2 linked regions of the Homo sapiens genome follow. The protein of the gene in region 1 binds, or shares a complex with, the protein of each later gene. Each region holds a gene or a part of one and is shown in the gene's direction. Other genes may lie near its edges. The genes, in order: FBXL13 and DRC5.

Region 1 (3,819 bases):
AAGTACTTCATGCCAGGACAAAGCTAAAGAGTCCTTCTCAGAGCCCTACCCCCCACCCCCCACTTTCTGGATACTAATCTTATTGGTTGATAGCATCAAGTTTTGGGCTGTGTTGTAAGGATCACCCAGCTGTGGCTGCTTTTTGCTATCGTTTTCCCTCTTGTTCAGGAAATCTTGTCATGAACGTGTTACAAAGACAGCAAGAGAGAAAAGATTGTATGTTTTATGAAAACCATTATTAGAGATATTAATGTTAGGGTTATGAACTAAGGTCTGGAATGGGGGGAATTTAGAATTGTCATAAAAAACAACAAAGGATGAGCTCTTGTCCTTTGCAGGGACATGAATGAAGCTGGAAATCATCATTCTCAGCAAACTATCACAAGGACAAAAAACCAAACACTGCATGTTCTCACTCATAGGTGGGAATTGAACAATGAGAACACCTGGACACAAGGCAGGGAACATCACACACGGGGGCCTGTCAGAGGGTGGGGGACTGGGGGAGGGATAGCATTAGGAGAAATACCTAATGTAAATGACGAGTTGTTGGGTGCAGCAAACCAACATGGCACATGTATACCTATTTAACAAACCTGCACGTTGTGCACATGTACCCTAGAACTTAAAGTATAATAATAATAATAAAAATTAAAAACAAACAAAAAACAGTTCTCAAACCTGGGGTTGTGTGTCATAATAGGAAGAGGTGGCCTCTAGCCCTGGCTCTGCCATTGCTATGTGACTCAAGATAATCCATTCATTCATTCATTCAACATTTCTGGAGCACCCACTCTGTGTCAGACACTATGTTCAGCACTGGGGCCACGTTGTGAGGAATAGATAAAGAACCTGTTCTCCGATCACACAACTTCTCTGAATCCCATTTCTTTGTTTGCAGTAAGAGGGCTGCACCACAATGAGTTCTCAAGACCCCCTACTCCTGCTTCTTGATTCTTTCCCATGGGAGCAAAATGTGCCCAGAAGAACAATAACAGGAAAAGTGATAACAATATTACATGCCAGACATTATGCTAGCTAATCACTTTTATATACATTGCCTCATTTTATTTTCTCAAGAATTTCCTAAAATGGGTATTATTATGCTCATTTTCCAGATGAGGAAACTAAGAGTCGAGAGGTTGAGCTACTTTTTGTTATAAGCAAGAAAGAGGTAGAGCCAGACTCAAAACCAGCCCAGCTAACTCCAAACCCAGCATTCTTCTCTCCTCCTCTGTTCATGTTTTGAAAGGCTCATTCCTCTCCCCTGGACTTTGCTCTGGGCTACTTATAAAAAGTTTACTCAAGAATTCATAGCAGTACAAAAAAAAACAAAAACAAACAAAAAAACCACCTCATTCTTGCCTTACCAGTCTTCTACTAGCTTTCCCTCCTTCCTTACCTACTCAACTTTTCTTATTCATCCCAAGAGTGATCCTGCCACTTCAGCCAAGACCAGCACTCCCACTGCTTTGCCTCCACTTGTGCTTACCTTCCACCTGGAATCTTTTTCTTTTCTTTTATTTTGAGACAGAGTCTCGCTCTGTTGCCCAGGCTGAAGAAGTGCAGTGGAGCAATCTCAGCTCACTGCAAGTTCCGCCTCCCGGCGATTCTCCTGCCTCAGCCTCCTGAGTAGCTGGGACTATAGGCGTGTGCCACCATGCCTGGCTAATTTTTTTGTATTTTTAGTTGAGATGGGGTTTCACCGTATTAGCCAGGATGGTCTCAATCTCCTGACCTCGTGATCTGCCCACCTTGGCCTCCCAAAGTGCTGGGATTACAGGCGTGAGCCACTGCACCCAGCCTGGAATTCTTTTCAGTCTTGTCTGTTGCCAAACTCTGCACTCTTTCCCAGACTTTATCTTACTCCTAAATTTAATTCATTCATCCCCTCATAGTTGTCCAACACAGTAGGAAATTCAAAAAAAGAGTACCTGAACATCTCTTTGAAGGAAAGTAAGGCACACACGGATTGCAGGAAGAGTTATAAAGAGTCGTGGGCCATTTATTAGTTAGTGTTTCCCTGAAAGAAGAGGTCTATGGTAGGAGATGATTCAAAAACTGTCCAAGGGCTTCCTTACGCTATCTTTTCCCCAAAGATGCCTTTTTCTGTTTCTCTTTTTTTCTGACTATACATGGTCACTGTAGAAAATTTGAAAACTATCCACTCTTCAGAGATAATCACTATTAGCATTTGGTGTATTTCCTTCTGTGATGGTTAATTTTATGTCACTTTGGTTAGGCTATAGTGCCTAGTTGTTTGGTCAAACACCAGTGTAAATGTTGTTGCAAAGGTTTGTTTTGTTTTTATTTTTGAGATGTGATAAACATTTAAATCAGTAGACTTTGAGTAAAGTGGACTCCCCTCTATAATGTGGGTGAACTTCATTCAGTTGAAGATGTTAAGAATAAAGACAGGTCTCCAAGACTGAGGTTTCCTGAAGAGGAAACAATTCTGCTGCAAGACTTGCAATGTAGAAATTCTGAGTTTCTAGACTACCAGCCTGGTATACCAATTTCAGATTTGCCAGCCCCCACAATCACATGACCAATTCCTTAAAATACATTTCTCACTCTGTCTCTTTCTCTCTCCATACACACACATACACACACTTGGATGTTTGTGTGTGTGTGTGTGTGTGTGTGTATGTATGTATATATACTTGGATGTAAGTATATCCTATTGGTTCTGTTTCTCTGGAGAACCCTGACTGATATACTTTGTTTTTGTTCTTCATTTCCTCCCAGTTAGCACTTTTCAAACTGTCATGTCTGTGTGTAAATCACCTGTCTTGTTCAAGTGCAGCCTCTAAGTCAGTAGTGGTGGGCTAAGATTCTGTACTTTGAACAAGCTCCCAGGTGATGCCTATGCTGCTGGTCTATGGACCACATTTTGTATAGCAAGGCCTTATATAATTAACTTTTTCTTCATGAAATAATATCATGAGCTCAGTTATTCTCCTAAAACATTAACTTGTAACTGTATTGCACCCCATCATACGAATTGCCATAAATTTGTTCAGGCTTTAGAAACATATTTCCCAAAGTCTTTTTAGAAAAATTATCCAAGTATAATCCCACCCAAAGGCCTGGCTTCTGTAGCACAATAGAAAAATACTAGAAATGTAGAAAAATTGTCCAAATATAATCCAACCCAAAGGCCTGGCTTCTGTAGCAAATCAGGCCTGCATGCTCAGCCCCTGGTTTCAAGGGCTTCCCTTAGCATTTTTTCTCTTTTCTTTTTATTTCAATAGCTATAAAAATTCCTTTGGCTTTTGTCTGGGTGCTCATATTATTAGTGTCTGCTGAGAAGGGGAACCTACTGAATAGACATGGTTCTCAGAAGCCATTCATACATTCCTCCATTTATTCATGTAATAATATTACTCAATTATCTCATCAGTTGTTATAGGCACCATGCTGGGAGCTGTATACAGGGGATTCATTTAATAACTAATCAATCATAAAATGAATATAATTGTAGTTATGATAATTACATGGTGATGTAAGTATATAACAAGAAACTGGTCTAATCTAAGGGTCAGGAACACTTCCTAAGGAAGTGACATTTGAGTTGAGCTCTGGTTGTCCTGGGGCTATGACACTCAGTTCCCTAACTTTTGGCTAGTCTTTTCTGAATAGGTGGAGGCTCTGATGACAGAACCTTGGAAGTCACCTTTAGTGAGAGGTGGCGCAAATGAAGTCTCCAAAGGTCTCCCTAGAGGTCCATTGTAGCTGCTGCTCCTCATTGTCCCTGTCATACTCTTCTGGAGATGACCCTTCAGGGGAGTTCCCCTTCTGTCTGCTTCTGGGCAGCAT
Region 2 (3,819 bases), on another chromosome or scaffold:
TAACACCTCTACCCTCTTCCTTTTGCTCCAGATCCCTACCTGTTTCAAGGACCTGCCAGTCTGAGAAGCTTCTTGTCATAAGGCCATCCAGGGGCCACGCACCCCTACCTTGCCAGCCTCCAGCATGCAGGATACCGTAACGACATCAGCATTGTTGGACCCCAGCCACTCCTCAGTCTCCACCCAGGACAATTCCTCCACTGGAGGACACACTTCAAGCACAAGCCCACAGCTCTCAAAGCCTTCAATCACACCAGTCCCTGCAAAGTCCAGGAACCCACATCCCAGGGCCAATATCCGTCGGATGCGCCGGATCATTGCTGAGGATCCTGAGTGGTCACTGGCCATCGTGCCCCTCCTCACAGAGCTCTGCATTCAGCACATTATCAGGAACTTCCAGAGTGAGTCTGTCCCTGCTTTAGGTGGGCAGGAGAAGGCCAAGAGGGGGGCTAGGTGGGTGGGGACTGTCCGGAGCCAAGACTGCAGAAGCTGGGTCCTGGGGCAGCCCCTGCTCTCCCGTATGGCATCCTCATACCCACTCAACACTTCCCTTCCACCCAGGGCCAAGACAGTTTCTCCTTCTGTTCCCACTGGCAGGTCCCACCAGACTCCCACCCACACTGCACCCTCCATGCCTCTGCCCTCTCCTTGCCTTTTCTACTCTCTCCAGCAAAACCCAGCCTGAGCCATATCTACTTCCTCCTCCAGAAAGCCTTCCCAAGTGAACCGCCCTCTACTCTGATGGAGTCTTCCATGCCATGTAAGGGCTCTTGGTTTGTTCCATATTTTGTGCTCTGTAATATTGATCCTTTCCAAAGATGGACTGCCAGCCTCTCCTACCAGATGGGGCGCTGTCTGAGGACAGGGCCATTATTTCATCTACAGCAACTATCATCACCCAGTCTCACTCATTTTACTTGTTTATTGTCAGCCTCCCCTCACTGGAATGTAAACTCCAAAAGGGAGAGCCCTGTTTGCTTACTCTTCTATCTCCAGCACGTGGGACATAGTAGTCTCTCATAGTGCTACCTCCAGTGTCTGGCACATAGTAGGTGCTCAAAAAATTTCTTGTTTTGAAATGGATGAATCAAATAAGATTGGAAGCCTCTGACCTCAGGGATTGTATCCCCCATCAGACCAGGTGATAATTGAGAGTTGGACCTGAGAGTCTTCCTCAGTCTGGGAACTCCCTGAGAACAGATGCTGAGATGTCCACCTTCAGGCAGGGAACATCCCAAAGCTAAAGGCTGTGTCCCACCCTCTGCTTGAGCCCCCCTGAGAGCAGAGGCTGTCTATCCCCTAAGCAGGGAAGGGTCTCTCCTTTGCCTGGTGCTCCCAGGCAGGCCCAGCCTGAGGCATCATGTTGAGGTGTCCCCCAACACTGTGACCCCCTGCGCTCCTTCCTCTGTTCCCAAAGAAAACCCTATCCTGAAGCAGATGCTCCCGGAACACCAGCAGAAGGTCCTGAACCACCTGTCCCCTGACCTACCACTGGCTGTGACCGCCAACCTGATAGACAGTGAGAACTACTGGCTCCGCTGCTGCATGCATCGCTGGCCCGTGTGCCACGTGGCCCACCATGGCGGCAGCTGGAAACGCATGTTCTTCGAGCGGCACCTGGAGAACCTGCTAAAGCACTTTATCCCAGGCACCACAGACCCTGCGGTGATCCTCGACCTGCTGCCGCTCTGCCGGAATTACGTGCGCAGGGTCCACGTCGATCAGTTCCTTCCGCCGGTGCAGCTCCCGGCCCAGCTCCGGCCGGGCGACCAGTCCGACTCAGGCAGCGAGGGAGAGATGGAGGAGCCCACCGTTGACCACTACCAACTGGGCGATCTGGTAGCTGGCCTGAGCCACCTGGAGGAGCTGGACCTGGTGTACGATGTCAAGGACTGCGGCATGAATTTCGAGTGGAATCTCTTCCTCTTCACCTACCGTGACTGCCTCTCCTTGGCAGCCGCCATCAAGGCATGCCACACCCTCAAGGTACTGTCTGCTCCCAGCCTTCCCCCCACCCCTTCTCAGCATCTCTCAGATTCCCTCTCCCCTCCTCTTCCTCCTCTATTATTGCCTTCTTCCTATTTCCTTCTCTTTCATTGGCCAAGTGTTTTTTAATGCACCCTGCACCAAGATACACGGTTCTGGGGGTGTAGAGATGAACAAGGCGCTGCTCTCCCAGTTCACCAGTTGGTTTCATTGAACAAACAGCTGCGCTCCAGGCCCTGTCCTAGGTGCTGAAGATTCAAGGATGAGCAAGATTATCATTTGTGCCCTCTGTAGCTAACAGTCTGATGGGATAAAGGCACTAATCAGCAATCATATAAACATAAAATTGATACTAGAATAGGGTTGCCAGATGTAGCAAATAGAAATACAGGACATCCAGTTAAATGTGAATTTCAGGTCCAGGCACGCTTGTAGTCTTCCAGAGACTGAGGAGGCTGAGGTAGGAGAATCCCTTGAGCCTCGGAGTTCAAGCCTGCAGTGAGCTGCAATCACACCACTGCACTCCAGCCTGGGTTACAAAATGAGACCCTGTCTCCAAAAATTTTGAATTTCAGATAAACAGCAAAGAATTTTTATAAGTATGTCCCGAATATTCCATGGGGCGTTCTTATTTATCTGAAATTTATTTTTAACTGGGCATCCTGTACTTTTTTCTGGTACCCCTGAATTGGGATGAATGCTATAAAGAAGAGATACTCTTATGAGAGATTGTAAAGGAGCATTTGACCTTGCAAGGGAAGGCTTCCCTGAACAAATGTCACTTACATAGAGATTAGAAGGAGGAGGACGAGTTACAGTCTCAGAGGGAGGAGCGTTCCAGACAGAGGGAGCAGTGCATACAGGCTCTATGGGCAGAGTGAACATGGCCAGCTCAAAGAGAAAGAGAAGACTGTGTGGCTGGCGCAGAGTGTGAGGTGGTCAGCCTTGCTGGGTGAAGGAGGCTTTGTCCAGGAGGCTATCTTTATCCTTAGGAGCTCTGGGACACCATCCAAGGGTTTTAGGCAAAAAAGTAGGTACCATTACTGGATTTCACATGTGAAAATGTCACTCCGTCTGTGAGGGAGGATGGCCTGGGCAGGGCAGCAGTGGACATGCAGATTACCTAGGAGATCACTGCCAAATCCAGGTGAGGGTGAGGGTCATTTCAGCGAGGGTAGTGTCTGTGGAGACTCAAAGGAGTGGAGAGAGTCAACACATATTTAGGCAGACATGTGTCTGGCATGCACCTGGCCACACTGGCACAGGGAGGATCTGAAGGAGAAGGAAGGAGAAGGAGGTGAGGTGCAAGACCTCTGGCTTGTGAGGCTGGATGGCTGGAGGGACCATGTGCAGAGACAGGGAATGTGGGAAGAGGATCAGTTTTGAGGGGGAAGAGTGTAAGTTTCAGTTTGAGGCATCTCAAAGAAGGGGTCATTTCGTTAGTTGGGTAGAGGGTCCGAAGCTCAGATGAGAGGTCTGAATTGAATGTGGGAATGTGTGCCATCTTCATGAAGGTGGCAGTTGCAGCCCTGGGTTTGGATGGAGTCTCACAGGGGAGAGCCAAAAGCAAGACAACAAGAGGCCTGGCATGTGGTCTCAGTGGAAGAAGAAGAGCTTGCCAGGAAGCCAGAGGGAGGAGGAAATGGGGAAACATGGCATTGTGTCACAGAGCAAGGGAGGGGTATGTTTCAAGTAGAGGGAGTGAGCAACGGGGTGGAATAGAGCTGAGGACTGGATTTAGTGAACATGGAGGTCACTGAGGGGGAGCTATTTCAGTGGAGTGGCAGGAGCAGAGGCCAGATAGCAGTGGTTTCTGGGGAGAGTGGGAAGTGA

The links.
Region 2: FBXL13 (region 1) and DRC5 share a complex: the UniProt entries of both Homo sapiens proteins name them as parts of the nexin-dynein regulatory complex.

The regions. Positions count from the first base shown.
Region 1 is NC_000007.14:102,886,243-102,890,061, reverse strand, and holds part of FBXL13 (F-box and leucine-rich repeat protein 13), read left to right. Parts: intron 1-3,819. UniProt on the Homo sapiens protein: Substrate-recognition component of the SCF (SKP1-CUL1-F-box protein)-type E3 ubiquitin ligase complex.
Region 2 is NC_000006.12:44,284,131-44,287,949, reverse strand, and holds part of DRC5 (dynein regulatory complex subunit 5), read left to right. Parts: intron 1-31; 5' UTR 32-124; coding exon 125-401; intron 402-670; exon of another isoform or gene 671-760; intron 761-1,417; coding exon 1,418-1,986; intron 1,987-3,819. UniProt on the Homo sapiens protein: Component of the nexin-dynein regulatory complex (N-DRC) a key regulator of ciliary/flagellar motility which maintains the alignment and integrity of the distal axoneme and regulates microtubule sliding in motile axonemes.